2 linked regions of the Homo sapiens genome follow. Each later gene encodes a partner of the first gene's protein in a complex. Links are inferred from orthologs where the notes say so. Each region holds a gene or a part of one and is shown in the gene's direction. Other genes may lie near its edges. The genes, in order: TAB1 and MAPK14.

Region 1 (15,387 bases):
GTGGTGTGTGCCTGTAATCCCAGCTACTCGGGAGGCTGAGGCAGGGGAACTGCTTGAACCAGGGAGGTGGGGGTTGCAGTGAGCCGAGATCGCGCCACTGCACTCCAGCCTGGGTGACAGGATGAGACTCCCTCTCAAAAAATAAAAAATAAAATAGTAATAATAATATTTTGGTGTCATTTTATATAATACAAAAATAATGCCTTACTAATATGATTTCTTGATTGGTCATATGATTTTTTGGCTCATTCTTTTTGCAAGTTCATTTATTATGTTATTGAAATTTATACTTATGACAACTTCATTTTCCATTGAAAGCTACAACAGCCACTTTTGGCAAAGGCAAGATTACAAATAATTTCTTATACTTTTTATTTTGAGAAGGCTCCTTCTGCCAAGGCAATTGTTGCTGTAGCTGCTGAGAGTATTTTATATGCTGTCACAGTAGGAGAAATTCATGATTTTAAAGAATTTTTAAAAAAATATTTAGCTCTTCATATTGGCCAGGCGCGGTGGCTCACACCTGTAATCCCAGCACTTTGGGAAACCGGGGCATGTGGATCACCTGAGGCCAGGAGTTCCAGACCAGCCTGGCCAACATGGTGAAACTCTGTCTCTATTAAAAATACAAAAATTACCCAGGCCTGGTGGTGCGCACCTGTAATCCCAGCTACTCAGGAGACTGAGGCAGGAGAATCTCTTGAACCCAGGAGGCAGAGGTTGCAGTGAGCCAAGATTGCGCCACTGCACTCCAGCCTGGGCGACAGAGTGAGACTCCGTTTCAAGAAAAAAAATTTAACTATTCATATAAATCAGTTTCATATGTGTCTGATTTAATTTTAAATGTAAACTTATACAACGATGTTTTAATGTTTTCTTTGACATTTTCTATAACTTGTGAAGGTTGTACAAGAAACTGAAAGTTACTTCATGATTTCTATATAATTTTAATGATCTGTTTATGCATTTGATTGCTGGGTCTTCAATAACAAGGAAAACTTAGCTTTAAAACTGCCTTCAGAGTAAGCTTCACATAAAATAGAATTATTTTCTGTAGAATATGATGATCTATACATTTAATTTTTATTTCTAAGACTGTGGATATTTGCAATATTGCAGCAGGCTTTTTTGTTTGTTTGTTTTTGTTTGTTTGTTTGTTGAGACTGAATCTTGCTCTGTTGTCCAGGCTAGAGTGAAATGACATGATGTCGCCTCCCTGCAACCTCCACCTCCCAGGTTTAAGCAATTCTCATGCCTCAGCCTCCCATGTACTGGGATTACAGGCATGAGCCACTGTGCCTGGCCTGCAGCAATTTTCAAAACCAGAGATTCTTTTTCTTTTCCTAGCATCCCCATGGATGCCAGGGCGAAAACCGAAAATTCTAAAACTCTTTGAAGAATCCTAACAGCTCCCTAGCGTGCTTTATTGCGACATCCATGTGTATGTTTCCATGTTGTAATAACTTACTGACAAGGTTTACTGCCTGACTGCTGGCAGTACCTGTCCCAGCATTTAGGCTGTGAGCTATATTTGTGCAGATGTTACAGGCACGGGCTGTTCCATGTGGAGTCTCTTCTCCCACCATGGAGCCCGTGATGGCATGGAGCCGTGACACCCCCACCAGTTTCTTCTGCTGCTGCCACCAATCTGGGCACAGATCCTGGCCCCCACTGTCCCCACACAGCCCCACAGTGTCGCAAACTGTCCAGCCATGTGGGTGCACACAGGGTGGCCAGGCCAATTGCTAGGCAGCTCTGCTGCCCACCGCCTGTCATCCTTGCTGGTCTGAGCCTGCTGGTGCATATGCTTCTTTGTCCCACTGGACTTCCTTTATAAAACACAAGTTCAAATATAAAATGATGAAGAATTTCAAGATGGCGAAATTCAAACAGAAATCAATGCAGAGCATTCAACCAAATGCTAGGTCTATTCTGAGAGCAGGGCAATGTGCGACTGTACGGGTCCCATGCCCATGAGTGCAGTCCTGCTCAGCACACTGATTCTGGCCCCTCTCCATCTCCCCTTTATTTTATTCTGAATCTTTTTTCTTCTCCTTTTAGTCTCCTTGTCAATTAGATAGCTACACTTGACTATGGGCCTGAGCTATGCTGCGTACTTTGTAAAGCATTGTCTAGTTCACTTCTTTTCTTTTTTCTTTCCTTTTTTTTTTTTTTTTTTTGAAATGGAGTCTTGCTCTGTCACCCAGGCTGGAGTGCAGTGGCGCAATCTTGGCTCACTGCAAGCTCCGCCTCCCAGTTCACGCCATTCTCCTGCCTCAGCCTCCCAAGTAGCTGGGACTACAGGCGCCCTCCACCACACCCGGCTAATTTAGTTTTTGTATTTTTAGTAGAGACGGGGTTTCACCGTGTTAGCCAGGATGGTCTCGATCTCCTGACCTTGTGATCCGCCCACCTCGGCCTCCCAAAGTGCTGGGATGACAGGCGTGAGCTACTGCTCCCAGCCTCCTTTTCTTTTCTTTACTTTTCTTTTTTTTTTTTTTTTGGTCGTTGTTGTTGTTGTTGTTTTGAGACAGAGTCTCGCTCTGTCACCCAGGCTGGAGTACAATGGCGCAATCCAGGCTGGAGTGCAGTGGCACAGTCTCAGCTCACTGCAACCTCCGCCTCCCAGGTTCAAACGATTCTCCTGCCTCAGCCTCCCAAGTAGCTGGGATTACAGGCATGCGCCACCACGCCCAGCTAATTTTTGTATTTTTAGTAGAGACAGGGTTTTGCCATGTTGGCCAGGCTGGTTTCGAACTCCTGACCTCAGGTGATCCGCCCCCCTCGGCCTCCCAAAGTGCTGGGATGACAGGCGTGAGCCACCGCGCCCGGCCTTGTTCACTTCTTTCAACACCTGTGATAGGGGCACTAAGATGCTCCCATTTTACAGATGAGGAGCTGGGCCAGGGAGGAGAAGTGGCCCAGCACAGTTATACCGGTGCAGGGCCTGACTTGACCAGTAGTGAGTCCAGCTTTAAAACCCATGGTCTTAGCCTCTTTGCTGCCTTTTGTTAAACTATTTTTATACATTTGCGGTCACTCACATAATCCTTAAAGCTGTTTTTGATGTGAAAGTTCCCCGAGCTGTGCATGCTTCTGGATCAGCAAAGGCTTCGGCTTTGGTTACCCATCTGTTCTCTGTGCTTATCCAGCGCTGGGGTCTTCCCAAACCCTGTCCCAATTATGTGACCTAGAAATGCGACTTCAAATGTTTGAGAGATCTCATACAAAATTGAATGTGCTTTTCCTCAAGGTTTTTCAAAAGTTACATTGCTGGACGGGATGACTTACTTCTGTAATCCTAGCACTTTGGGAGGCCGAGATGGGCAGATCGCTTGAACTCGGGAGGTAGAGCTTGCAGGAAGCCAACATCACAGCACTGCACTCCAGCCTGGGTGACAGAGTGAGACCCTGTCTCAAAAAAAAAAAAAAAAAAAAAAAAAAGTTACATCAATTGAACAGTAGCAGGGATTGTGCCCTCAGTGTCAATGTGGAGGACTCCCAGGTTCATCCTCCGTCCACACTTGCTTCATTGGTGGCTCATCTGGTCTCACAGCTTTAAATATCCGCTGTATTCTGACCATTCTCAAGTGTGTACACCCACCCCCCCAGGTCAGCTACTCGTATATCCAACTGCCTTTACTCCGACATATCTGGTTGACATCTCCCATGAAGACCCCAGGGATCTGCCTTGCTACTTCTCTCATCCCATAGCTTGCCACCCTCCCCCGTGCTTCAGCCACGCTGGCCTCCTTGCTGTTCCTAGAACATACCTAGCACATTCCTGCCTCAGGGCCTTTGCACTTGCTGTTGCCTTTGCCTGAAATGCTCTCCCTGCTCCACCCCAGATCTCTGGAGGAGACCTGAAACCTTTGCAGTGGGTTCATCCCTGGTCATGCCTTTTAAAAAGGCACCCCCGACCAGGCACAGTGGCTTATATTTGTTTTTGTTTTTGTTTTGAGACGGAGTCTTGCTCTGTCGCCCAGGCTGGAGCGCAGTGGCAGGATCTCGGCTCACTGCAAGCTCCACCTCCCAGGTTCACGCCATTCTCCTGCCTCAGCCTCCCGAGTAGCTGGGACTACAGGCGCCCGCCACCATGCCCGGCTAATTTTTTGTATTTTTTAGTAGAGACGGGGTTTCGCTGTGTTAGACAGGATGGTCTCAATCTCCCGACCTCGTGATCCACCCACCTCGGCCTCCCAAAGTGCTGGGATTACAGGCGTGAGCCACCACGCCCAGCCAAGTGGCTCATATTTGTAATCCTAGCACTTTGGGAGGCCGAGGCAGTCAGATCAGTTGAGCCCGGGAGTTTGAGACCCGCCCGGGCAACATCGCAAAACCCTGTCTCTACAAAAAACAAAATGGAAAATTAGCCAGGTGTTGTGGCACACCTGTAGTCCCAGCTACTCGGGAGACTGAAGCAGGAAAATCACCTGAGCCTGGGAGGTCGAGGCTTCAGTGAGCTGTGGTTGCGTCACTGCACTCCAGCCTGGGTGACAGAGTGAGACCCTGTCTCAAAAAAAAATAAATAAATAAAGTAGCCGGGTGTGGTGTTGTGTGCATGTAATCCCAGCTACTCGGGAGGCTGAGGCAGGAGACTCACTTGAACCCAGGAGGTGGAGGTTGCGGTGAGCCGAGATCATGCCATTGCACTCCAGCCTGGACGACAAGAGCAAAACTCCATCTCAAAAAAAAAAAAAAAAAGGCAGCCCACCTCCACTTTGTTTTCCTCCATAGCACTTGTCACCACCTGACATACTTACTAGTTTATTTATTACCTATCTCTCCTCACCGAATGTGGAAGTCTCATAAGGGCAGTGTTCTTGTCCCTGCTTACCTGGCATGTACTAAGTGCTCTATTGAGGATTGTTGAATTAACGCATGAATCTTCCCACCAAATCTCCTCCTTTCTCTGTGCTCATCATCTAAGTAAAAGGCACCATCATCTACCAGTCATCCCCCTGGGTATTATCCCAGATTTGTCCCTCTTTTCAAAAACCCAAGCATACGCCAGATCTTGTTGACTTAACATCCTAAATATTTCTCAAACCATCCCTTCTGTCACTGCCTTGGTTCTCCTCTTCCATAGCAGATGCCTCAAATGCATAGAGTAACATGCTGCTTTGCACACTGTGAATGTTTCAGCATCCTCTCTGCCCCCTGCGCTCTCTGTCTACCTGCCAGGCCCAGACCTGGCCCTCCTCTAGTGGCCCTGTCTCGGCAGATCCTCCACCACTGGGCCGACGGCCTGGGCCAGGAACCTGGGAGTCATCTTCCACTCCCCTTTCTTCCGCTTCCAATCAACTGCCAGAGTCTTTCTACTTGACCTATTTGGATATTTTTGAAAACTGTCCATTTCTTTTATCCTCATGGCCACCATCCTGGTCCCGGCCACCTCCTTCCTTCTCTTATCTGGGTTATCCCAGCAGGCTCCTAATACTGGTCTCCCTGCTTCCTGTCTGACTCAGTGGGATCCCTCTGAAACACAAATATGATCATGTGACTCTCCCACTTAAATGAGTCCCTACCCTTACAAGATAAAGCCAATTGCTTCTGTTGCACCCATATCCCTCCCTGATTTGTTCTCCTCAGCTCGGCCACAGTCAATTTCTGCCTTTGCCAGTTCCCCCCTCACTTTGACCATGCGATCCCTTGGCCTGAGATGCGCTTTCTATCTTCTCTGCTCAATCCCTCTGCCCTCCCAGACCCAGCTGGAAGGTCACCTCCCCTGTGAAGTCTTCCCTGACTCCCCCAGCAGAATTAACTGCCCCCTCTCTTGGGCTTCTGGCTCCACTCAGTTTGTCACAGGCCTGATGAGCAAGGATATCTTGATAAAGGTGATAACTGGCCGAAAAGCAGTTGGGGCGCCCAATGGCGCAGCCTTCAGAAGCACCTTCTGTGTTTTTGGAACTGTTGGCAGCATCCCAAGGTGAAATGGTAGAAGCATATGGCATGATCATGGGGAAATGGGTCTGGGGAAGGGAAGAGAAGCCACATATTTGGAGCAGATTCTGTTCCTGTTCTAAAGGCTTGGAAGATGTTACTTTATTGAATCCTTGTAACATCCCTGGGAGGCAGGGGTTTTAAAAACAAAGACAGTGGTGGCCGGGCGCGGTGGCTCATGCCTGTAATCCCAGCACTTTGGGAGGCCAAGCAGGGAGAATCTTTTTTTTTTTTTTTTTTTTTTTTTGAGACAGAGTCTAACTCTGTTGCTAGGCTGGAGTGCACTGGCGTGATCTCGGCTCACTGCAACCTCCGCCTCCTAGGTTCAAGCAATTCTCCTGCCTCGGCCTCCCGAGTAGCTGTGATTATAGCCACACACTGCCATGTCCATCTAATTTTTTTTTTTTTTGAGACAGAGTCTCACTCTGTCGCCCAGGCTGGAGTACGGTGGCGCGATCTTGGCTCACTGCAACCTCCGCCTCCCGGGTTCAAGCGATTCTCCTGCCTCAGCCTCCCAAGTAGCTGAGACTATAGGCACATGCCACCACACCCGGCTAATTTTTTGTATTTTTAGTAGAGACGAGGTTTCACCATGTTGGCCAAGATGGTCTTGATCTCCTGACCTCGTGATCCACCCACCTCGGCCTCCCAAAGTGCTGGGATTACAGGCATGAGCCACCGCGCCCAGCTCGGGAGGATCTTTTGAGCTCAGGCGTTTGACACCAGCCTGGGCAACATGGTGATAGCCTGTCTCTACAAGAATACAAAAATTAGCCGGGCGCAGTGGCACATGCTGTAGTCCCAGCTACCCGGGAGACTGAGGTGGGAGAATCACTTGAGCCCAGAAGCTTGAGGCTGCAATGAGCCATGATTGTGCCACCGCACTCCAGCCTGGACAACACAGTGAGAACCTGTTTTTTTTTTTTTTTTAAATGGTGGGGGTCAGGGAGAGATGGCTTGCAAATGAATGTTTGTTTAATTTTATAAAAAGCAGGCAGGTGCCAGGTGCAATGGCTCACGCCTGTAATCTCGGCACTTTGGGAGGCGAAGGCAGGTGGATCACCTGAGGTCGGGAGTTCAAGACCAGCCTGACCAACATGGAGAAACCCCATCGCTACTAAAAATACAAAATTAGCCAGACGTGGTGGCGCATGCCTGTAATCCCAGCTACTTGGGAGGTTGAGGCAGGAGAATCGCTTGAACCTGGGAGTCAAACATCTCTCTACCAATGGGACCCTGTCAATGGCTTGCTTAGAAGGCAACAACTTCCCTCTGTCCTCCAGATGAATAAACTCCTGCCTGGGGCCCACTTGGTCAGAGCCTGTCCCTACAACCCCTTCATCTCTCTCCTCCAACTCTGTGCAAGCCACAGTGGGCTCCCGTGACAAGTGTGCTTTTTTTTTTTTTTTTTTTAAGACAGAGTCTCACTCTGTTGCCCAGGTTGGAGTGCAGTGGAGTGATCTCAGCTCACTCACTGCAACCTCCACCTCCCAGGTTCGTGATTCTCCTGCTTCAGCCTCCCAAGTAGCTGGGATTACAGGCGTGCACCACCATGCCTGGCTAATTTTTTGTAGTTTTAGTAGAGATGGGGTTTCACCATGTTGGCTGGACTGATCTCGAACTCCTGACCTCAGGTGATCCACCGGCCTCGGCCTCCCAAAGTGCTGGGATTACAGGCATGAGCCACCGCGCCTGCCCCCGGCAGAATGTCTTATATACATAAATGTTGTCCTCTCCAATTAAAATGTTAACATTTTAGGTTGGGCGGGGTGGCTCACACTTGTAATCCCAGCACTTTGGGAGGCCCAGGCAGAAGAATCGTTTTAGGCCAGGAGTTTGAGACCAGCCTGGCCAACATAGCGGTACTCCGTCTCTACAAAAAATGTAAAAGATTAGCTGGGCGTGGTGGCGGGCGCCTGTAACCCCAGCTACTCGGGAGGCTGAGGCAGGAGAATCGCTTCAACCCGGGAGGCAGAGGTTGCAGTGAGTCCAGATCACGCCACTGCATTCCAGCCTGGGCGACAGAGCAAGCCTCCGTCTCAAAAATAACATAACATAACATAACATAAAATAATAATAAAATGAAATGAAATAAAATAAAATAAAATGTTAGCTTTTTGAAGGCCTGTCCTGCTCGCTGCAGAACCCACTATAGAGCCAAGCAGGGTCACCTAGGTAGCATTTGCTGAGTGAATGAATTGTCCTCCCCTTACCAACTGTGTTCACAAAGAACCCTCAGGAGTTCAAGACCAGCCTGGCCAACATGGCGAAACCCCGTTTCTACTAAAAATACAAAAATTAGCCGGGCGTGGTGGCTCATGCCTGTAGTCCCGGCTACTCCGGAGGCTGGGGCAGGAGAGGCGGGCACCTGTAATCCCAGCTACTCGGGAAGCTGAGGAAGGAGAATCGCTTGAGGCCGGAAGGCAGAGGTTGCAGGGAGCTGTGATCGCGCCACTGCACTCCAGCCTGGGTGACAGAGTGAGACCCTATCTCAAAAAATAATAAAGATGGGCGAGGAGCAATCGGCCCCGAGGAAAAGACAAAACAAAACAACAACAACAACAACAACAACAAAACGTGCAAGAGCGCGCCTGCGCACACGGTCCGCTACGACCCCCATCCCTCTTCGGGCGTGGGGTGGCGCTGGGCGCATGCTCCCCGGCAGCGCGGTCATCCTCGCCTCCTTCGGGCCGCTCTAGCCGCCCCACTCGCTGCTCTGCGGGGAGGCGGGCGCTCCCGCAGGGGTTCCTCCAAGATGGCGGCGCAGAGGAGGAGCTTGCTGCAGAGTGTGAGGAACAGGCCCGCTCTCTGGGCTTGGGGTTGGGAGCCTGGGCGGGGGTGCTGTCGGGTGCAGGAACGGCTCCTTCTCCGAGTTTGGACAGCCACCCTCTCCGTGGTGGGGTGTGTCAGCCACCTTCTCCTCTCCTCGGGCTGGCCCCCTCGTTCCCGAGGCCAGGGCGTGTGTGCGCGGCGGGCCCGGCCCCCGGGTCAAGGGCGCCGGGGCTGTGGGCTGCTGCTGCCGGGCGTCGAGGGCGGGAGCGTCCTGGAGCCAGAAGGGAACACGGCGGGCGGCAGCAGAGCTATCCGAGTCTCGAGCCCACTGCGACACCGAGCAGACGTGCAATGATAATAACAGCAGCATCCACAGTGTACCGCTTACTGCATCCCCGGCGTTGTGTTAATTGCTTTACATTTGTCAGTTTCATTTTCGTAGCAGCCCCCTGAGATAGGTGCTACTGTTATTCCTATTTGACAGACTGAGACACTGAGGTGGTCGTTTGCCTAAGGCCACACAAATGGTACGTATTGAGGCAGGATTAAAATCAGGCAGTGTGATTCCAGAAACCCCCTTAACCCCTGGGCTGTACTAAAGGAATGACCAGTGGTAGCTGTCACTGGGTTCTGGTCCTGGCTCTGACTGTGTCTCCCTCAGCCTCAGTTTCCTTCTCCTAAGGCGAGAGCGCTGAGTGGAAGAATTGTCTTCAGACTCATCCCTACCCCCGGTCTGGACCCTCATGGGTTTGGCGCTGTCTTCCAGGCCCTGCGTCCTCTGACGCGTATGTGCACATAGATGCACACACATGTTGGCACCATGGACTACTCTGACCTACCAGGGTAGGGTGCTGGCCTCCTGGGTCCTTCCTATGCATGGCACTGTTAGAATTGTCTATGGACTTGTCTGCCTCCTGTACTAGAAAGTAAACTCCGCCGGGCGCGGTGGCTCATGCCTGTAATCCCAGAACTATGGGAGGCTGAGGCGGGTGGATCACGAGGTCAGGAGATCAAGACCATCCTGGCCAACATGGTGAAACCCCGTCTTTACTAAAAATACAAAAATTAGCCGAGCGTGGTGGGGGCGCCTGTAGTCCCAACTATTCGGGAGGCTGAGGCAGGAGAATTAGCTTGAACACAGGAGGCGGAGCTTGCAGCGAGCCAAGATCGGGCCACTGCACTCCAGCCTGGAGCGACAGAGCGAGACTGTGTCTCAAAAAAAAAAAAAAAAAAAAAACGAAAGTAAACTCCTTGAGGACAGGGACCTGTGATCTCTTGTTTACCGCTGTGTCTCTATTATCTATCACCATGTGCTGGGCACTCAATAAATACATTTGTGAAAGGATGAGTAAAGGTTTGTAGCCAGGTCCAGTGCTCGCCCTTGGCGTCACAGAGGTGAGTAGACATTGGCTCAGGGATAACCTGGAACCAGAGCCTTGAAATTATTCTCCCAGGAGCACAGTTCCCAGGCCTCCCCAGTGGGGATTGCTGTCTTCCCCTCCACACCTTTACTACTCCTTTATTTTATTACTGCTGGGCACGTCTGTCTTGTTACCGAGTTGGCATTGATTTTAGACGGCTGGCCCTCTGCTTTGTAAGTTCCCAGAGGGCAAGGTCCCTGTATAACTGTCCCCACTCTAGTTAGCATTTGGGAAACGCTGGTTGGATTGTGACATTGGGAGGGAAAATTGTAAATGGTGCAGGCTGAGTTGGCTTGCTGAGAAGAGAGCAGCCACCTGGGTCATGTAGAGTAGGTGGCTGCCAGCTTCTCCCCTTCCTAGATGTGATGGAACCAAAGGGAATTGTGTTAGGCAGAAGGCCAGCTCTACTAGCCCCAGAATGTGTTTCTCCAGGTGGTGGTGGCCTTTTTTAAAGCAAGAATAGTTAGCTTTAAACACATTGCATCTTGGTGCGTGGCAAAGGGATGGCAGGGATGTCATCAGAAGGCCCCTCCGCCCTCATGATGATCAGGACATCCCTCTCACAGGTTGTATGGATGTCCAGGTGGTGTGTAGGGCTTGCTGATGTCACATCCACTGTCTCAAGTCTGGGGAGAACAACTCAGCTCAGACACCTGCATTCAGAGATGGCTGTGAGGGCTGCTGGTCTGTGGCTACTGGGCAAATATGAATGAGGCGTGGTGCCCACCCTCACTGCGTTTGTAGATCAGCTTGGGAGGAGCATATGCCACTGATACAATACCTGGGGCACTGTCTTGTTATTGTAGACCTGTGTCAAGAGCCCTGGGCAGACAGCAGAGAATTTTAGAGGCTTTAAAGGATGAGAGGAGTTTGCCAAGCAGAGGAGAGGAGGGCCATTCCAGGAGGATGTGTATGTGTGTTTTCTTGACACGTGTGTTTTTGTTTTCATTTTTCTTCCTAGAGATGGGGTTTCGCCATGTTGCCCAGGCTGGTCTAGAATCCTGGGTTCAAGCAATCCTCCTGCCTTCGCCTCCCAAAGTGCTGGGATTACAGGCATGAGCCACCGCATCTGGCTAAGGACAGGTGTTTAAATATGTGTGCATGTGTTTGTTAAGCTTTTCACAAGTTAAGTACAATTAGTACTACAAGTCTATGTGTTGAGGGGCTGCAGAGTGGCCTGATTGGTCTGGGTCAGTGGAGGTTTGCAGGAATGGCATTTGCAAGGGTATGCTGGGGCCACTTGGTAGATCACTTGGTGGGAGCATCATTGCAGGCACTGTGGTACCTTGAAAGGTCTTTTGAAGCAAAAAGCTTTTTTGTGGGTGTATGGGGAAGACAGGATCTCACTGTCACCCAGACTGGAGTGAAGCGGTGTGATCTCGGCTCACTGCAACCTCTGCTTCGTGGGTTCAAGTGATTCTTGTGCCTCAGCCTCCCAAGTAGCTGGGATTACAGGTGTGCACCACCACACCAGCTAACTTTCATATTTTTAGTAGAGACAGGGTTTCACCACGTTGCCTAGGCTGGTCATGAACTCCTGGCCTCAAGCAATCCGCCTGCCTGGGCCTCCCAAAGTGCTAGGATTACAGGTGTGAGCCACTGTGCCCGGCCACAAAGAGGTTCTAAGGAGAGCTTGATGTGTTCAAAAGGACCCAGACCTTTCAGCCGGATAAAACAGTGTTAGTCTCATACTGGCTTTGGGCAAATCACTTTATGTCCCTGAGCCTTAGTTTCTCCAAACCAAGAGGACTCTGGGGAGTATTGTTGGTGTTAAAGGAACTGACACATTCCACTACTAGCCTGGCTTGGTTGCCCGCTAACCAGAAACTTCTACCTTCAGTGCTGCCGTGAGTGAATGCTGTTCATTCCCTTAAATGTCCCTGAGCACTCACTATGTGCTAGGCACCCTGCAGGTGCAGGAGACACCGCCTTTGTGGAGCTGATGGTCTAGTAAAGGGGACAGACAGTGAGCACCGAACAGATACAGATCATCTGTGATTTTGTAATATCCAAACTACAGCATCAGGTGGTGCTATGAGGAACAGTCTAGATTCACACACAGAATGTTGGGGGTGCCATTTTGGACAGGGTGGTAAGGGAAGACTTCTCCACATTTGATGAGATGAAAACGGGGAAATGGGGGCAGCATTCCTGCCCAAGGGAGCAGGAGATGCAAAGGCTGCTGTTTCAGGAGCCTCAGGGGTGCTGGTGCAGCTGGGTGGAGTGCCTTGGGGGAGCTTGGGAGTAGCTGAGGTCTGAGGGAGCCGGGGGCCATGCTGGGCTTCACAGGTCCTGATGTGGCCTCTGGATTCCATTCTTCATGTGATGTGAAGCTTTCATGGGGAGCAGATTGAGTAGGGACCTGATGTGATGTGACTTTTGATTGGAGAAAAATCCCTCTTTTTTTTTTTTTTTTGAGACGGAGTCTCGCTCTGTTGCCCAGGCTGGAGTGCAGTGGCGCAATCTCAGCTCACTGCAAGCTCCGCCTCCCAGGTTCACGCCATTCTCCTGCCTCAGCCTCCCAAGTAGCTGGGACTACAGGCACCCACCACCACACCCAGCTAACTTTTTGTATTTTTTTTTTTAGTAGAGACGGGGTTTCACCGTGTTAGCCAGGATGGTCTCGATCTCCTGACCTCGTGATCTGCCAGCCTCGGCCTCCCAAAGTGCTGGGATTACAGGCGTGAGCCACCGTGCCCGGCCGAAAAATCCCTCTTTTGAGTTTGAGTGGTGAGAGTGGAAGCCTGGGACCTCCTAAGAGACTCCTAGAGTCATCCAGGTGCGAGAAGGTGTCTTGGCCATGGGGATGGCAGAAGAATGGTGGGAAGTATCAGATTCCAGTTGTGTTTTGGAGGAAGAGCTCATGTGATTTGCTGATGGATTGAATGTGAGGTGTGTGACAGAGGAAGAAGAGTCAAAAAGGACTCTTAAGGTTTTGGTTTAAACAACAGTGGTGCCATTTACGGGGTGAGGGAGCCCTGGAAGAGGGGCACCCTGGGGCAGGGGGAATCAAGAGTTTGATTTTGCCTGTACTGTTACTTAATTATAAAAAAGAAAATCAGGCTAGGCATGGTGGCTCATGCCTGGAATCCCAGCCCTTTGGGAGGCTGAGGCAGGAGGATCACTTGAGGCCAGGAGTTCCAGATCAGCTCGGGCAACATAGTGAGATTCAGTCTTTAAAAAAATTAGTGAGGCATGGTGGTATGTGCCTGTAGTACTTAGGAGACTTAATGGGGTGATTGCCTGAGCCCAGAAGTTTGAGGTTGTAGTGAGGCTATGATCCCCTCACTGCACTCCAGGCTGGGTGACACAGCAAGACCTGTTTAAAAAAAAAAAAAGAAAGTAAGCTTAAAATCAATTTTTTAAACTTCGACATGTCCTGAGCAATTATATCTGAGATCATAGGTGCTGCTATCTGTGTAATTTATCTAAAGGATGTTAAAATAAATACATAGCCACTAAAATAAAAAGGTCCATGGGGGTACCACCTATACCCATTGCATACACCCAGCTGCTGCCCTAGCACATTGGAAGTGCCAACAATGATTATTAGCCCCTTTAAGAATGAATGAGGAGCTCTTTAGGATGACGACATGGAGAACCTTCAATGAAAACTCCGGTGGGAGAAGTGGGGGCCAGGAGTGGAGCTGGTCTCAGAGAAGTGGGTCATCCGGAAGGTTGGAGGTGGTGGGGGCATTGGGGCCTTGGAAGCTTTTTGGAGAGAAAGGTCTGCTGCTCCCCTGCTCCGAGCCCTCTTCCTGGGGTTGTGAGTCTCCCTTTCTGAGCTTCCTTTTTGCTTCTAAGGAATGTGGGTGCTTTTACCACAAAAACACTTGGCCTTTTCATAGCATAATTTGGTATTCAAGCTGTGGCCTGAGCTTGGAACCATTCTTTGTCCATTTCTGCTGCCCAGGACTTTGAGATGAGTCTGTGTGGGTACTTTGTGAACTATTATGTGACATGGACACATATATACATGAGGAGTGAATGCTTACATCATGCACAGGGTGTTTGTAAAGGCCTTGTTGGGTTAAATACTGTTGGATCACTGTAGAAGCTTTTCATACCGAAACATTAATTTTGGAAACTCCTTCACAAAATCAAATCAAAATTAGGTCTTTTGAAACAGGCTTCTTAACGTATTCTTGTGAAATTTCTCATGAGCAGTTCATTTCTCAGACATGGAAGAGTTAAGTCCTGCGTTCGCTGTTGTGTGTGTTGCAGTGGCTCCGCGATGAGGCTGTGCTGAGTGAGAGACGCCCCCTTCTCAGCTTCTCGCAGACTCTTGCTCCCTGCGCTCCAGCGCCGCTCACGGCTGGTGCTGGCAGGCCTGGCATTTGGGGGCGTGGGAGAAAGTATGCATCAGTGTGTGCAGGGGTGGAGGGGTGGGTGGTTTGTGTGAATAGAAAGTACATGACCTTTCTGAAAATTGTTCAGAAATGTGGAGGAAGGAAGCGAGAGACTTGGCAGTCCTGTAGGCTTTAATGGAATCAGCAATGGACGCTCGGTATGGCTAATCCTCGATGGAGATGGAAAGGGACGGGAGAACACGATCCAAGCCTACTCAGCTGCAGCAGCGTGAGTCCGCTGGGGAACACGGAGAAGACCAGATACTCTCACTCCCACTTGGTAGAACCTCCTGAGGTTCTCCGGCCACTGTAGTGAACCAGTGTCTGGCGAGCGCCCGAATTACGTGAGAAACTGCCCATGTGTCATTGGATCTAAGACACCAATGTTTTAAGGACACGTCAGTGTTTTGTCTATTGCTCAGAAAGAGAACTCACAGCTAATTAACTTGTAACATACCAACTCCAGAGACGTTAACATGTGGAAAATGTAGGTCTTCAAATCAGTGAAATAAGGTAATCTAATTAACAATACCAGGCTATAGCACAATGGTTGCCACAGGGCCACTTTGGGAGGCCAAGGCGTGTGGATCACAAGGTCAGGAGTTCAAGACCAGCCTGGCCAAGATGGTGAAACCACGTCTCTACTAAAAATACAAAAAATTAGCCGGGCATGGTGGCACGCACCTGTAATCCCAGCTACTCCAGAGGCTGAGGCAGAGAATTGCTTAAACCTGGAGGGGCAGAGCTTGCAGTGAGCCAAGATCGCGCCACTGCACTCCAGCCTGGGCGACAGAGTGAGACTGTCACCAAAAAAAAAAAAAAAAAAAAAGGAATCATTTGAGTGAAAGATAGTTTCTTGAAGATGGTCAGTGGATGATTGAGGTTTGGGAATCATGGGCCTC
Region 2 (15,251 bases), on another chromosome or scaffold:
TGCAAAAGGCAGAATGCGGACAAAGGAGAATGTCTCAAGGAGAGGACAGTCTGGAGCAGGGCTGTGTAGGACTTTCCACACTTGTCACCAACATGCCAACATACCAACATGTGCCAATTGTGGGTGATAAACCAGGGGACAAGAAGGACTAATAAATTCAGAGTGTGACTGAGGACAACTTGAGTAATTAAGATTACTATAATGATGTAGGTCACAAAGGATTCTTTGTTTTTTTTTTTTCTTTTTGAGACAGAGTCTCATTCTGTCACCAGGCTGGAGTGCAGTGGCGTGATCTCGGCTCACTGCAACCTCTGCCTCCCGGATTCAAGCGATTCTCCTGCCTCAGCCTCTCGGGTAGCTGGGACTACAGCTGTGCGCCACCAAGCCCAGCTAATTTTTGTATTTTTAGTGGAGAAGGGGTTTCACCACGTTGGCCAGGATGGTCTCAAACTCCTGACCTCAGTGATCCGCCCACCTCAGCCTCCCAAAGTGCTGGGATTACAGGTGTGAGCCACTGCACCCGGCCAGGGTTCTTAACCTGAGGTTTGTGGACCCCCAAGGAGTCTGTAGATAGTATTTGGGGACATATGTGAAATTATATAGGTGAACTTATATCTTTATTTCACTAACCTCTTTAGCATTTCCTTCAATTATGAATGTTGGCAACAAAACACAGTAGTATCAGCAGAACTTGACTTTGTCACCAGTAGAAATGACAAACATTTCTATATTACATTACAATTGCTAAAGAGATCTTGAAATATTAGTTACATTCATCACTACTTTGAAATTATGGTAGTTATTAGACCCATGTTATTAAATAACACAATTTTGGTATTTTTGATATTTAGATAACTGTATTTCAATGTAACTGGTTTTCCTTATAATCCTGCTTATTTTATGCATTAAAAAATTATTCAACCAAGACCGTTTACTAGGTGAAGACAATCTCTTCAACTAATTGTCCTGGGAAAACAGAATATCTACATGTAAAAGAATAAAGCTGGACCTTTACCTTACACTATATACAAACATTAATTCAAAAAGGATCAAAGACCTAAATTTAAAAGCTAAAACTATAAAATTCATAGAAGGAAACATAGATGAAAATATGCATGATCTTGGCCCAGAGCGGTGGCTCATGCCTGTAATCCCAGCACTTTGTGAGGCCAAAGCAAGCGGATCACTTGAGGTCAGGAATTTGAGACCAGCCTGACCAATTTGATGAAACCCCGTCTCTACTAAAAATGCAAAAATTAGCTGGGTGTGGTGGCGCACACCTGTAATCCCAGATACTCGGGAGATGAGGCAGGAGAATCGCTTGAACTTGGGAGGTGGAGGTTGCAGTGAGCGGAGATTGTGCCACTGCATGGTAGCCTGGGTGACAGTGAGACTTTGCCTCAAAAAGAAAGAAAGAAGGAAAGAAGAATGGAAGGAAGGAAGGAGAAAAGAAAAGAAAAGAAAAGATGCATGATCTTGTATGATCTTGAATTTGACAAGTTTCTTAAATATGGCACCAAAAGTCCAGGCAACAAAAGAAAATACAGATAAATTGGATTTCATCAAAATTAAAAACTCTTCTACATCAGGTGCGGTGGCTCACGTCTGTAATCCCAGCACTTTGGGAGGCCGAGGCAGGTGGATCACCTGAGGTCAGGAGTTCAAAACCAGCCTGGCCAACATGGTGAAACCCCACCTCTATTAAAAATACAAAAATTAGCTGGGCGTGGTGGCACCTGCCTGTAGTCCCCACTACTCAGGAGGCTGAGGCAGGAGAATTGCTCGAACCTGGGAGGCAGGGGCTGCAGTGAGCAGAGATCATGCCATCGCACTCCAGCCTGGGCAACAAGAGTGAAATTCCGTCTCAACAAAACAAAACAAAACAAAACAAAACACCAAAAAACTTTTCTACATCAAAGGACACTGTATCAACAGAGTGAAAAGACAACCTGCAGAATGGGAGAAAATATTTACAAAATTATATAAGATTTACAAACATCTATCTGATAGAAATTTAATATCCAGAATACATGAAGAACTCCTATAACTCAACAACAAAAAGACAAACAACCTAATTTTACAAAGGACAAAGGAAATGAATAGACATTTCTCCAAAGAAGATATACAATTAACCAATAAACACACCAAAAGATACTCATCACCTTTAGTCATCAGGAAAATGCAGAACAAAAGCAAAAACAAAAAACCACGATGAGATATCATTTCATACCTAATAGGTTGGCTATAATTTAAAAAAATGGAAAATAACAAATGTTGGAGAGCACATGGAAAAATTGTACATTGCCAGTGAAAATGTAAAGTGGTGCAGCTACTGTGGAAAACAGTTTGGCAGTTCCTTAAAAAGTTAAATTTACCACAGATTTATGATGTGATTCAACAATTCTAGTCCTAGTTATAGGACTTCAAACAGATCTCCTGTGCCAATGTTCATGGCAGCATTATTTACAGTAGCCTAATGGCGGTAGAAACAACTCAAATGTCTGTTAACGAATGGATAAACAAAAATGTGGTATATAAATACAATGGAATATTATTCAGCCATAAAATGAAATGAAGTTCTAATACATGCTACAATATGGATGAATCTTGAAAACATTATGCTAAGTGAAAGAAGTCAGACACAAAAAGACAAACATATTGTATGATTCTACTTAAGTGAAATAGCTAGAATAGGCAAATTCATAGAGACAGAAAGCAGAAGAGAGGTTACTTGGGCTGAGGGGTGGGGAAATAGGGAATTATTGCTTAACAGAATTTCTGTTTGAGGTGATGAAAAAGTTTTGGAAATAGCGGTGATGGTTTCACAACATTGCGAATGTCAATCATGCCACTGAATTGTATATTTAAAAATGGTCAAAATAGCCAATTTTATGTTATACATATTTCACCACAATAAAAAACATTTAAAAAATTATTCTGAAAGATGTTGATTAACTTTATCAGACTGCTAGAAGGTTCAAAGCACAAAAACAGGGTAAGAGCCCCTGAACTGTAGGACCTAGCTAGTCACAGCGGGTATCAGAGGTGGTGGTGGTAGATTCTACCTTAGTGACCATGAGTACCACCATGTGGGCACTGTTGGATATGAGACTAGAAGAATCTCATTCCCCTACCATTAATCAGTCCACCATGGCTATCTTATTTATTTATTTTTTTTGAGACAGAGACTTGCTCTGTTGCCCAGGCTAGAGTGTAGTGGCACAATCTCGACCCACTACAACCTCCGCCTCCCAGGTTCAAGCAATTCTCATGCCTCAGCCTCTTGAGCAGCTGGAATTACAGCACGTGCCACCACGCCCAGCTAATTTTTGTATTTTTAGTAGAGACGGGGTTTCACCATGTTGCCCAGGTTGGTCTCAAATTCCTGGACTCAAGTGATCTGCCTGCCTTGGCCTCCTGAAGTGCTGGGATTACGGGCGTGAGCCATTGCGTCTTGCTGGCTATCTTATTTTTGGTCGGGAGTCTGGTAGTCATGGTTGATTGAACAATGGAATTATGAAATATCCTCCTTAGGTACCATAGGGACATCCAAGATCTTTATGCCCAGGAAGTTTACAATCGAAAAGGTACTGCAAGACAAACCACAAAAATGACTGAAGAAAAATTGCACAATAAACTGCATGATTCTGATTACAGGAACTCAGACAAGAAAGAGAAACGGACCCCAAAGGAGTCAGGTTAGGTTTCAGTCCTGCCCGGCTCGGCAGCAGGTGAAAGATTGGACACACGCACCGGCACTGGACGTGGTGTCTGAAGGTGGTGATGTTGATGTTCATGTTCCCAGAAGAGGAGGCCTTCCTTTTGTGTTCCTGTTGAAAGGTCTCCTCATTGTATACTTCACGCTTAACATCATATGCGAATGAGTTTCGCCTGGACTTAGAGCTGAAGCCAGAGATGGCGCTCCTCTCTAGTTGTGCCATTCCTGGATGAGTGGAAAGAGAGCAAATAAAAGAGCATTTTCAGTAATCCAGATCCTCGGCATATTTTTAAGGAAATAAAATTCCTATATAATAATGTTTTACACTTGCATAGCATCTTTCAGTTGTAAAAAACTCTTTCTCAAAGTTGTATAATTTTATGTGTATTCTTTTCATTTTTCAAATGGAGACAACAAAACCCAGAAGTTTAAACAGTCTTTGCTGTTTGATACTTATTAGAGCCAGGACTAGAACCCAGGTGTCCTGCTGGGAGGCCTAGTTTTCTTTATATTCAGTTGTGTTATGTTGTAGGAAAATGATCAAGAGGTGGACAGTATTAATCAACAATTTTCACTGAAAATGCTCACTATCCAGCATATATGAAGAAGTCCAGATGAAGGGTTAAGTGCTCAATACAAGTCTTGTAACTCCTCTAAAATAGCAGACATCATTATCCCTTTACCTTTTACTTTTCTTCACGGCACTTGCCAGCACCTGATTCATTATTTGTCTGTTTGTCCATTGTCTGTTTCCCCCATAAAATGTAAGACCAGGAAGCAGGACTGTGACTATTCACAGTTGCAGCCCCAGGACCCAAAAGAATGGCTTTCACTTAGCAACTTAGCAGGCCCTTAACAAGTGTTTCTTGAATGACTGCCAAGTATACAGTTAGTGGCCTCATGGTGTAGCAGAAAAAGCTATAGAAGTTCAAGACTAGACTAGGCAACATGGTGAAACCCTGTCTCTACTAAAAATAGAAACAAAATTAGCTGGGCATGATGGCATGGCATGTAGTCCTAGCTGCTCAGGAGGCTGAGGTGGGAGGATCACCTGAGCCCAGCAGGTGGAGGTTGCAGTGAGCTGGGATCGCACCACTGTACTCCAGCCTGGGTGTCAGAGCGAGACCCTGTCTCTAAAAGAAAAAAAAATCTATATTATCCTGCTTTTTTAAAAGATTGAAAAGATAGAGTAAATGAGGATGGATAGGGATCCATCTCTGGGAGAAAGTATAACCAGTCTTAATAATCTATGTTTTTGAACAATAAAAAAAGCATAAACTCTAAAATTCTTCCACATAAATGTAAAAAAGCATATGTATAAACCACATACCTATAAAATATATTGGTAAACCCTCAAATTATATAGATTACACAATTATATAGATGATGGGTGATGCTGCAGATAAGTTTAATGTGTCAGCAACTTTGTTTTCCTTCAGAAGAATCATCATCATCATCATTGCCAACATTTATTGGGCATTTATCCTATGCCATGCATTGCACTAGATTTCTTCACGAGTTATGTCATTAAATTTCCACAACAATACCAGTACTACTATTTCTTTCATTTTACAGGTGTAAAACCAAGATTTTAGAAAATGTAAGTAATTGGGCCATAATTATATATTGTATTTTTACCCTCAAAGCATTGGGTAGAAGTAATATGCTGTATAACAACCATGAACTAAAGATCACAAATTCTCTAAACCAGTGAGGTGACTGGGGAATACAGAAGAGGATGGGAGAGGTATTTTACAATATATTACTTAAGATAATTAGTGCCTCATGTCTCTTACAAAAAGAAAAAAAGGTAGAACTGTATATTGAAATGTAAGGAATCCCCCCCCACCTTTCTTTCCCCACCCATAGGAATACAGACCCAATCTTCCTTACTTTCCCCGTATAATTGTCCAATGTACTTCCATGAGTAGTCTCTTTGTTCCCAGCAACCTAAACAAGCCTAATTAGTCTGCTAATGACAAAACTGATATCCTGGGTCACATCGAGAGTCTAGAACCCAGCATTTTGTTCTGAAAGTGACATTAAAGGAGGATTGGTGTAAAATAGGCAAAATATGACCGTCAAGGAGTGGTGGGAACAGTGGGGCTGGCAAAGGCAGCAGAAGCTGCTTAGCTCTAGCCATTTTTGCCATCGGTCAATGTGGGGCCCGGAATGGCTTAGATCTGATCTTTTCCAGGAGAAGCCATAATGCCAGATTTTTATGTGGAATCTTCTGGCTTTTAAATGTTGTCAATTACTTTACATATGTTTACGTATACATATAAATATATATGTATATTATTTTATTTTATTTTTTGATATAGAGTCTCGCTCTGTCGCCCAGGCTGGAGTGCAGTGGCGTGATCTCAGCTCACAGGGTTTCACGGTGTTAGCCAGGATGGTCTTGATCTCCTGACCTCGTGATCTGCCTCCCTCGGCCTCCCAAAGTGCTGGGATTACACGCGTGAGCCACCGCGCCCGGCCTATTTTTTATTTTTTTGGAGATGGAGTACAGCTCTGTCACCCAGGCTGGAGTTCAGTGGCGCGATCTTAGCTCACTGCAACCTCCACCTCCCAGGTTCAAGCGATTCTCCTGCCTTGCCTCCTGAGTAGCTGGGATTACAGGCATGTGCCACCACATCTGGCTAATTTTTGTATTTTTGGTGGAGACAGGGTTTCGCCATGTTGGCCAGGCTGGTCTTGAATTCCCTACCTCAGGTGATCCTCCCGCCTCGGCCTCCCAAATTGCTGGGATTACAGGCGTGAGCCACTGCGCCTGGCCTATTTAAAGTCTTTCAGCAGAAGTAGTAATACGCACAGAGATGCATTTTGGGAAGATGAAATGTGCCAGTGTTATGTTCTAGAGCTGAGTTGTCCAGTATGGTAGCCACTGGCTACATGTGGCTATTTAAACTTAAAATAAAAAATTCAGATCCTCAATTATACTAGCTAGATTTCAAGTGCTCAACAGCCACATATGGCTAGTGGTTACCTTACTGGACAGTGCAGATATGCAGATATAAAAAATTTCCATCATCACAAAAAGTTGTTGGACAGTGGAGATAGGAGAGACTGAGGCAAAACAGCCAATTGGAGACCATTAATATTAGTCTAGGAGATGTTATCAAGTCATAAACTCCTACGACCACAGTGAGGATGGCTAGGAGGAGCAGGTGGAAAGTTGTCTTTAAGGAACTCCATCAAATGTCTGGCTAACAGCAGCAAGGGTAAACGCATGGTTTCCTTATTATTTTTTTTAAGTAATTTTCTTTGGAATTTCTCCAGCTCCATTATGTCTTTCTTGATTTCATAGAAATCCTAGTGGCTCATTTTCATGTACTAGCAGGACACTTCCCAAGAAGATGCAATGACCAGAAACTCCTACTGTTGAGTAGGCCCCACTTAGCAAGACCTACTGAATCAGAAACTCTGGGGGCCATCAGTCTGTTTTAAGAAGCTGTCCAGACTGCTGGGCCCCCAGAGATTCTGATTCAGTAGGTCTTGCTAGGTAGAAAAAAAGCAAAGAAGCTGTCCAGGTGATTCTGATAAAAATTAAAGTATGACTACCACTATAAATATAGTGGATTATCTTTCATGAGCCTTTCAGTGCTAAATTTGGGGGCCCTGTTAAAATACAAGCACTTTTGGCCTAGCTCTTTCACCCTCCATAGTACCCTTATCCATCCATCCATCCATCCATCCATCCATCCATCCATCCATCCATTTATCTAATTATTTACATTATCTGTGTTCAGAGTGCTTTAAAAGTAAAGAATAGGCCAGACATGGCTCAGTGGCTCATGCCTGTAATCCCAGCACTTTGGAAGGCCAAGGCGGTTGGATCAGCTGAGGTCAGGAGTTCAAGACCAGCCTGGCCAACATGGTGAAACCCCGTCTCTAATAAAAATACAAAAATTAGCCGAGCATGATGGCGTGCCTGTAGTCCTGGCTACTCAGGAGGGTGAGGCAGGAGAATCGCTTGAACCTAGGAGGCAGAGGTTGCAGTGAACCGAGATCAAACCACTGCATTCCAGCCTGGGCGACAGAGCAAGACTCTGTCTCAAAAAAAAAAAAAAAAAAAAAAGTCAAGAATAAAAAGTTTAAATACAATCCAATTTTTTAGCTATTGACCCAAATAATATGAAATCTTGAAAGCTAGTTTAGTTGCAGGAATATCTTCCCCCTGATATTGTTAACTTTCTTATGTTTTCTATAATCACGGAAAGGCAAAATTTACTTCCGAATTTTCAAAATAAGCATTTGTAATTCCATCAGAAACAACCCTACACCTGTTACTACCTAGGTTTTTATGGAGAATGTATTGGGAATACAGAAAAGGTATAAGCAAAGAGCCTGGCCTTTAGATCCTTTAGTCACTCTGGCTAGTGGCTAGGGATGACTAGTAAGATGACAGTCCTTAAGCGGATGACCATTGGACACATAAACATAGGACAACCACCTTCCATGCAATGTGGATAGAGTAACATGGTGTGTTGGAGAGATGCTCATTATTGGGGTGGGGGTGCTGGAGAAGGCTTCACGGGGCCCCTGACACATCAACGGCATTTGACATGAAAAGAAAGGGGCAAGGAGGTGGGGGTGGGGATTCAGTCACAGGGAACAAAATTAACAAAAGCAGTGGGGTCTGAAAGGAAGAGGAACGGCCGGGCAGTCAGGCCTCAGGAGGAAATGGATGGGGTAGGCGGTGGGGTGCAGGTAGCACGTCAGTTCTGGGGCTTTTGACAATATAGACAGGAGAATTTGAAAGGATGCAGCTTGCAAAACGCACACACTGTTGTCTCTTGTCATTGCCATCCACACGGCCTTTGAAAGTAGAGACAATACCTCAGAGATAAGCTCCCAGGGACGACCATCATTCATTCATTCCACAGATACTGACTGAGTGCCCACGGCGTGCCTGGCTCTGCGGCATACCTGGGTACCTGCCGGTGACGGACGCAGCCCCCGCCCTGGGACCTGCAGCCCCCGGCGCCCAGGCGTCTCCCAGCAGCGGCTCACCTGGCTCCTTGGCGGGGGCGGGAGTGCGGGCGCTGGGATCCCACACGGCTCTCGCCTGGCTGGCGGCGCTGCGGACGCGGATACCGGCGGCGGTTCCCGAGCCGTTGTGGCCTAGCCCGCGGGCGTTCCGGGCGGGCTGAGGAGATGAGAGTGGGGGAGGGGACGAGGAAGAGGAGCATGAGCAGCTGGGCTAGGGAGCCAGGAAAGTGGTACCTGGGTCGCCCTCCTCATACCTGAGTCGTGGGATCCCCTTGGTATTTGGTAAACCTGTATACCAAGGCTCCTTCTCTCTCCGAGGTTTTGCTATTCTTGATCGAGGGCCTATTTGGTGCCAGGCCTCGTGTCCTGAACATACAGCAGTGCACATGTGTCACATGTGTACTGCACAGACGGTAATTCACTAACGTCTCCGGAAGACTTAAGCCTTCCTCAGGTCAGAAGAGGTAAAAAGAAATGGAGGCTAGGAGGGTCACCCAGGTCTCCAACCATAGGCTGTCTGCCCCACAAACCCGGCTCTCCCCACTGAATGACACCCTCCTGCCCAGATCTGCTCTGGATGCAGACATGCCATCTGCACTCACTCCCTTTACCCTCCTCCCACCCTATCCCTGTCCCTAGCACTGTCTCTCACTCCACCTTGTATTCCTGCTTGGCCCAGTTACAGTTTTACACTTGTTTGTTTGATGACTGTGTTAATGTCTACCTTATAATGCACTTTATGTATTCCTTTTTGTAAATCATCTTACCCCTATGAGGGCAAGGACTTTTATCCCTTTCATTAACTGTTTTATTATCAGTGCCTACAGCAGTGTGGTGGACATAGGAAGTATTCAATTAATTTTTGTTGAATGATTGCCCTCCCATTGATTGTAAGCTCCACACCGGCAGCAACTGTAGTTTTTAATCACTTTTAAACTGCAAGTGTTTGACACCTAGTAGGCATTTAATACACATTGGTTGAATGAGTGTATGAATATACTGCTTACTTTATCTTTACCCTTTCATTCACCCTCACCTCATCATCCCAATTTGTAGGATAAAAATGTGCATTTCTGAGGATTCCTACTTCCAAGCTTCCTCCTCACCCTTTGTAACCATTCCCTCATTCCCTTGATCCCCCCAACCCCATCCCTCATGTCTTCACAATCATGTTTTTGCTCTTACTTCCCCTTCACCCTCCATTACTTCTTAGAAAGCTTCCTATCCTCCCTAGTTTGGAACATTCTCAAGCAACATGTTTTTGTAGATAAGAGAATTCCAGCCTAAGCTACATTGGATCCAAAACAGCTTTCCATGAATCACCCATGACTATCTGTTTTTTGGTTTTATATTGCTTTCCTTGAAGAGGACTGAGGATACTGTACCACTTGAAATCATGGTCACTGTTCATAATTTTTTCAACAAATATTTATGACACATGTTTTATGTTCTAGACATTGTGCTAGATGTTGGGACAAGATATGCAAAGTCTGAGCCCTCCAAGGTGTGTATGACACAAAATAGAATAATCACGGGAAATGTTGAGAAATGTCCTGGCTTGGATCTAGTTATTTCTAATACAAGAAACTAAGAGAATGAGACAGGATCTGATTCTTCTGCTCATTGTAACAAGCTTTAGCATAGGCATAGGTTGATAATGGATGTAGGCATGGGGTTAGAATGCCTTGCCCATTCACATTTATCTTGTTTGGTTTTTACAAATGACTCTGTTAGTCGGGAATGCAGGGCAGGAATTCTCTCGTAGAAGCTGGAACTGAGGTTCAGGAAAGGTCAGTTGACTTGCCTAAATTCGATGAGACTCCTGCCCTATTCTCCTTACTCGAAGAGGCCTGAGTTAAATGCTTAAAATCCTCTTCACTGATGGCTCTTCAGGATAGGAGTCAGTTTCAAATCTTCAGTGTAACGGTTTTTTAAATGCTTCTCAAAGGGAGATATCAGAGACTTTCCTGAATCAGAATCACCTAAGATGTATTATAAAAATGCATGCTCTTGATCAAGACCTCCTCTGACCTACCCAATTAGACTCCCTGTGAGTTCTGGGAACTTGCATCTTAAACTCCCAGGGTGATTTTTCTGCATGTAAGTTTAACTGGGAGAGTTTTAATGTAAAGCTTCGGTTTGTTTTTGTTTTTGTTTTTGTTTTTGAGACGGAGTCTCCCTCTGACGCCAGGCTGGAGTGCAGTGGCGCGATTTTAGCTCACTGCAACCTCCGCCTCCTGGATTCATGCAATTCTCCTGCCTCAGCCTCCCGAGAAGCTGGGACTACAGGGTCGTGCCACCACGCCCAGCTAATTTTTGTATTTTTTTTAGTAGAGACGAGGTTTCACCATGTTGGCCAGGATGGTCTCTATCGCTTGACCTCGTGATCCACCCGCCTCGGCCTCCCAAAGTGCTGGGATAACAGGTGTGAGCCACTGAGCCCAGCCCCTGGAAAGCCTCAGCTTTGATGCAGGGTTAACATTTGCCTTTGGGACATATTTCGTCAGCATCTCAAAGAGTAACCCATATGTCCTTGAGCAGATGGGAATGCAACAGCCTTCTGGCCGGAACCTGTCTCTTTCTTTCTTTCTTTCTTTTGAGACGGAGTTTCGCTCTTGTTGCCCAGGCTGGAGTGTAATGGCACGATCTCGGCTCACCGCAACTCCGCCTCCCGGGTTCAAGCGATTCTCCTGCCTCAGCCTCCCGAATAGCTAAGACTCCAGGTGCGCGCCACTACGCCCGGTTAATTTTGCATTTTTAGTAGAGACGGGGTTTCTCCATGTTGGTCAGGCTGGTCTCGAACTCCCGACCTCAGGTGATCCGCCCGCCTCGGCCTCCCAAAGTGCTGGGATTACAGGCGTGAGCCACCACGCCCGGCCACTTGTCTCTTTTTTATGCAAGTGTTTTTTGGAATTTGGGGGTTCAGGTGAGCAGGTGCTCTGCTGCTGGTAACTACTCGCAGTTAAAGATCTTTTGACTCTTTCCCCGACACGCTATTTGTCAGTGTCGTTTTCCACCACAGAGCCAGGTATTTGCCCCGCCGGCCACGGTGAGGCGCGCGAGGCGTGTGCTGCCAGCTTCTCTCTTCCTTCCCCGGTCCGCCTTCGCGCCCTTAAGGAGACAGTCCCTGGGAGTTTCTGCCTTTGGTCTCCAGTTATTGTTCTCTTCTCGCGAGAACTGCTCCTCCCATCCTCTTCTCTCACGAAGCCCCGCCCGCGGAGAGGTTCCATATTGGGTAAAATCTCGGCTCTCGGAGAGTCCCGGGAGCTGTTCTCGCGAGAGTACTGCGGGAGGCTCCCGTTTGCTGGCTCTTGGAACCGCGACCACTGGAGCCTTAGCGGGCGCAGCAGCTGGAACGGGAGTACTGCGACGCAGCCCGGAGTCGGCCTTGTAGGGGCGAAGGTGCAGGGAGATCGCGGCGGGCGCAGTCTTGAGCGCCGGAGCGCGTCCCTGCCCTTAGCGGGGCTTGCCCCAGTCGCAGGGGCACATCCAGCCGCTGCGGCTGACAGCAGCCGCGCGCGCGGGAGTCTGCGGGGTCGCGGCAGCCGCACCTGCGCGGGCGACCAGCGCAAGGTCCCCGCCCGGCTGGGCGGGCAGCAAGGGCCGGGGAGAGGGTGCGGGTGCAGGCGGGGGCCCCACAGGGCCACCTTCTTGCCCGGCGGCTGCCGCTGGAAAATGTCTCAGGAGAGGCCCACGTTCTACCGGCAGGAGCTGAACAAGACAATCTGGGAGGTGCCCGAGCGTTACCAGAACCTGTCTCCAGTGGGCTCTGGCGCCTATGGCTCTGTGTGGTGAGTGTCGCTGGGCCTGGGGCCGCTGTGGGCAGGGTGGCCCCTCGCGCCCGAGGGCCAGGCCTGCTCCACTGCTCAGCGTTGCGTCAAGTGGCAGGAATTTTCCTCGGGGGAGGGCATTGCTGCCCCTTCGAGCTCTGCCCGTTCTGCACCTCCAGCACCCCTCGCCCTGCACTCACGCAGGTATGCGGTCCACCGTGTGCAGCACTCAGGTCCGCTGCGAGAGGTAGGTGGTGGTGCTGGAGCTCGGTTCTGGCTAGCACCCTGCGCCTTCCCCTCTCGGAGGGTTGCTGCTCGGCAACAGGCACCGGGGGAAGGGCCGCTTCCTTGGGGGTCTCCCTGCCTACCTGGAGCAGAAGGACCCTCTCCCGTGATGCGCCCACGCTGGGGCTCCGGACCCTGGGTCCTCTGAGCAGACAAGCTCGGGGAACTGCCGGGAGAAGCAGAAGGGCACAGCCCAACCCGAAGACTGCGGTCATCTGAACAAAACTGACCAGGAAGGGAGCTCTCTCCGGGCCTTTTTTTTTTTTTTTTTTTTTCAAAACTCTGTCGAAATCCCATCTTGAAAAGCGTTCTTTTTGAATTCGCACTTGAATTAACAGCGATCCATAGAGCTTAAAATACCGACTTTATCTCGGTGAGCACTGTGCCAGCTTGAGTGGTGTGTTTCCGATTCGGTTGAAAGCGTATTTCCTTTCCGTGGAGGGGCGGCGGTGGTAGTGCCTGCAAGAACACTGCAGCTTGAGAAACTGGCAGGCTCACTGATTAGTCACATACCACTGCTCATTTAAGTATTGTTCGACAAAACAATTTTCTCATTTGGAGCAAGAAAGATTCAGATCTGTAAGGCGCCCTCAAGATCAAAAAGTTATTAACAGTGCTGGGAGGTATTGTAAATATTTTTTGAGATAATTCCTGCGAATACTGTGTTTTAAAAGTCCCTTAGAGAGCTTGCAGGGAGTTATCTAGTTATCTGCATTTATGGCCTGAGGTACACGATGGTTTTCGTAAGGATATGGAACCACATAGAAAAGGAAGGGAAGAGATACTTTTTAGCTTTAATTTACACCGTGAGTGTGTTTTAAATTAAGTCGATAGCATATAATTTCCAGACCTGAAATATTTCACTAACTGCTCTCTTAACTTCCAAGGTTTTATACCCTGTATTTTAGATTTTCTATAATTTGAAAGCTACGGATCTTAAACTAAGTATCAGATTTAACTGTTAGCTTTTTCTGTGTTTTAGTAATTCGTATTGTATGCGTCATTTGAAAACGGGCCTGTAAAATCGTTTTTTTGTTTTGGAACAAATTCCAGGCTTTTGGATGTGTTAATCTTTAAATATGATTTCTGTGTTTCCCAAAGTCACATCATGAATTTCCTGTTTGGTAGAATCTTCTGGGTAATTGAGATTGTGCAATTGTGTCCAGCAACAGATCATATTGCATTTTCTAGTTCAAGTTGCTTAAGTTATGTTGCAGATAGCACCGTGCTTGACATCTTTCTCCCATTTTTACAGCATGGCAGTTTACATTTTAAAGGAATTTGCAGCATTTTACATTCAGAGAGTGTGTGTGTGTAGTTGGTTTGCAGCATTTTACATTCAGTATATACATATTATATAGGTATATACATTCAGTATATACATATTATATAGGTATATACATTCAGTATATACATATTATATATATCTAGTTGATTTGCTAATTTTCAAAGACGTATTTGGATCATTGCTCTTTTAATATTTTATAGCTCATTAATATACTTCCATTTTTTCATTCTTGAATTGACATACATTTCTGTAGTATCACGTTTTCGTTTTCAATGCTATTTAAATTTTAATGGAGTGATACAGCAGAATAACTCAACTATAGAGGGTTTGGGTGAACTCCAATTGAATTGCTTGCAAGGGTTCGCTACTATTGGTGACTAGCTCTGCACTGGAACAGGAGATTCAGATTTACAGTGAAGTACCATTAAAATTAACTCCACAGTTCTTTAGTGGTATACTTTTCTGTGGTATAGAAGCCAGCAGTATCTGACACTTAAAAGTACTTTTATTTTATTGAACAGATTTTTTAAAATACATTGACATTGTATAAAATTTGAAAGTTTTACAAAGGTACTCAGTGGGCCGGGTGCAGTGGCTCACGCCTGTAATCCCAGCACTTTGGGAGGCCGAGGCGGGTGGATCACAGCGTCAGGAGATCGAGACCATCCTGGCTAACACGGTGAAACCCCGTCTCTACTAAAAATACAAAAAATTAGCCGCCCGTGGTGGCGGGCGCCTGTACTCCCAGCTACTCAGGAGGCTGAGGCAGGAGGATGATTTGAACCCGGGAGGCGGAGGTTGCAATGAGCTGAGATCGCTCCACTGCACTCCAGCCTGGGCGAAAGTGCGAGACGCCGTCTCAAAAAAAAAAAAAAAAAAGATATTCAGTGAAAAGTCTCCTTTCCTTTTTGTTCTCCAGCCACTCTACTCTCTCAAAGACAGGCACTGTTAAGTGTCTTGTGTCTTTCCAGAGAGGCAGTTTTTTTTATTTGCTTGTTTGTTTAGTAGTCTTTCTACTAAAGGGATTTAAGATGTAACCTACAGCATATTGGTGAAAGAAAATACAACTGAAACTGAAATTGTATGACAATTGACAATAAACAAATTATAACTAATGTTGGAATGAAAATACCAGAATTTAGATTTACAATTAAGTGTTATCTTATTCAGAGATTCAGCGTAGTTATTTGAA

Evidence for each region.
Region 2: the proteins of TAB1 (region 1) and MAPK14 are in contact, whole or in part, in a crystal structure (PDB 4LOP), measured with the Mus musculus proteins. The link is inferred for Homo sapiens from one-to-one orthologs. Residues at the interface, in NP_079885.2 of Mus musculus: Val385, Tyr386, Pro387, Val388, Ser389, Val390, Pro391, Tyr392, Leu405, Ser406, Leu407, Val408, Met409, Pro410; in NP_036081.1 of Mus musculus: Gly110, Ala111, Asn115, Ile116, Cys119, Gln120, Lys121, Leu122, Thr123, Asp124, Asp125, His126, Phe129, Val158, Asn159, Glu160, Asp161, Cys162, Leu217, Thr218, Gly219, Arg220, Thr221, Leu222, Asn272, Val273, Phe274, Ile275, Gly276, Ala277.

The regions. Positions count from the first base shown.
Region 1 is NC_000022.11:39,391,105-39,406,491, forward strand, and holds the start of TAB1 (TGF-beta-activated kinase 1 and MAP3K7-binding protein 1), read left to right. Parts: upstream 1-8,675; 5' UTR 8,676-8,698; coding exon 8,699-8,731; intron 8,732-15,387. UniProt on the Homo sapiens protein: Key adapter protein that plays an essential role in JNK and NF-kappa-B activation and proinflammatory cytokines production in response to stimulation with TLRs and cytokines.
Region 2 is NC_000006.12:36,015,767-36,031,017, forward strand, and holds the start of MAPK14 (mitogen-activated protein kinase 14), read left to right. Parts: upstream 1-12,041; 5' UTR 12,042-12,391; coding exon 12,392-12,507; coding exon of another isoform or gene 12,508-12,733; intron 12,734-13,047; exon of another isoform or gene 13,048-13,144; intron 13,145-13,321; exon of another isoform or gene 13,322-13,394; intron 13,395-15,251. Other genes in the region: SLC26A8 (testis anion transporter 1), read right to left, coding at 3,754-3,941. UniProt on the Homo sapiens protein: Serine/threonine kinase which acts as an essential component of the MAP kinase signal transduction pathway.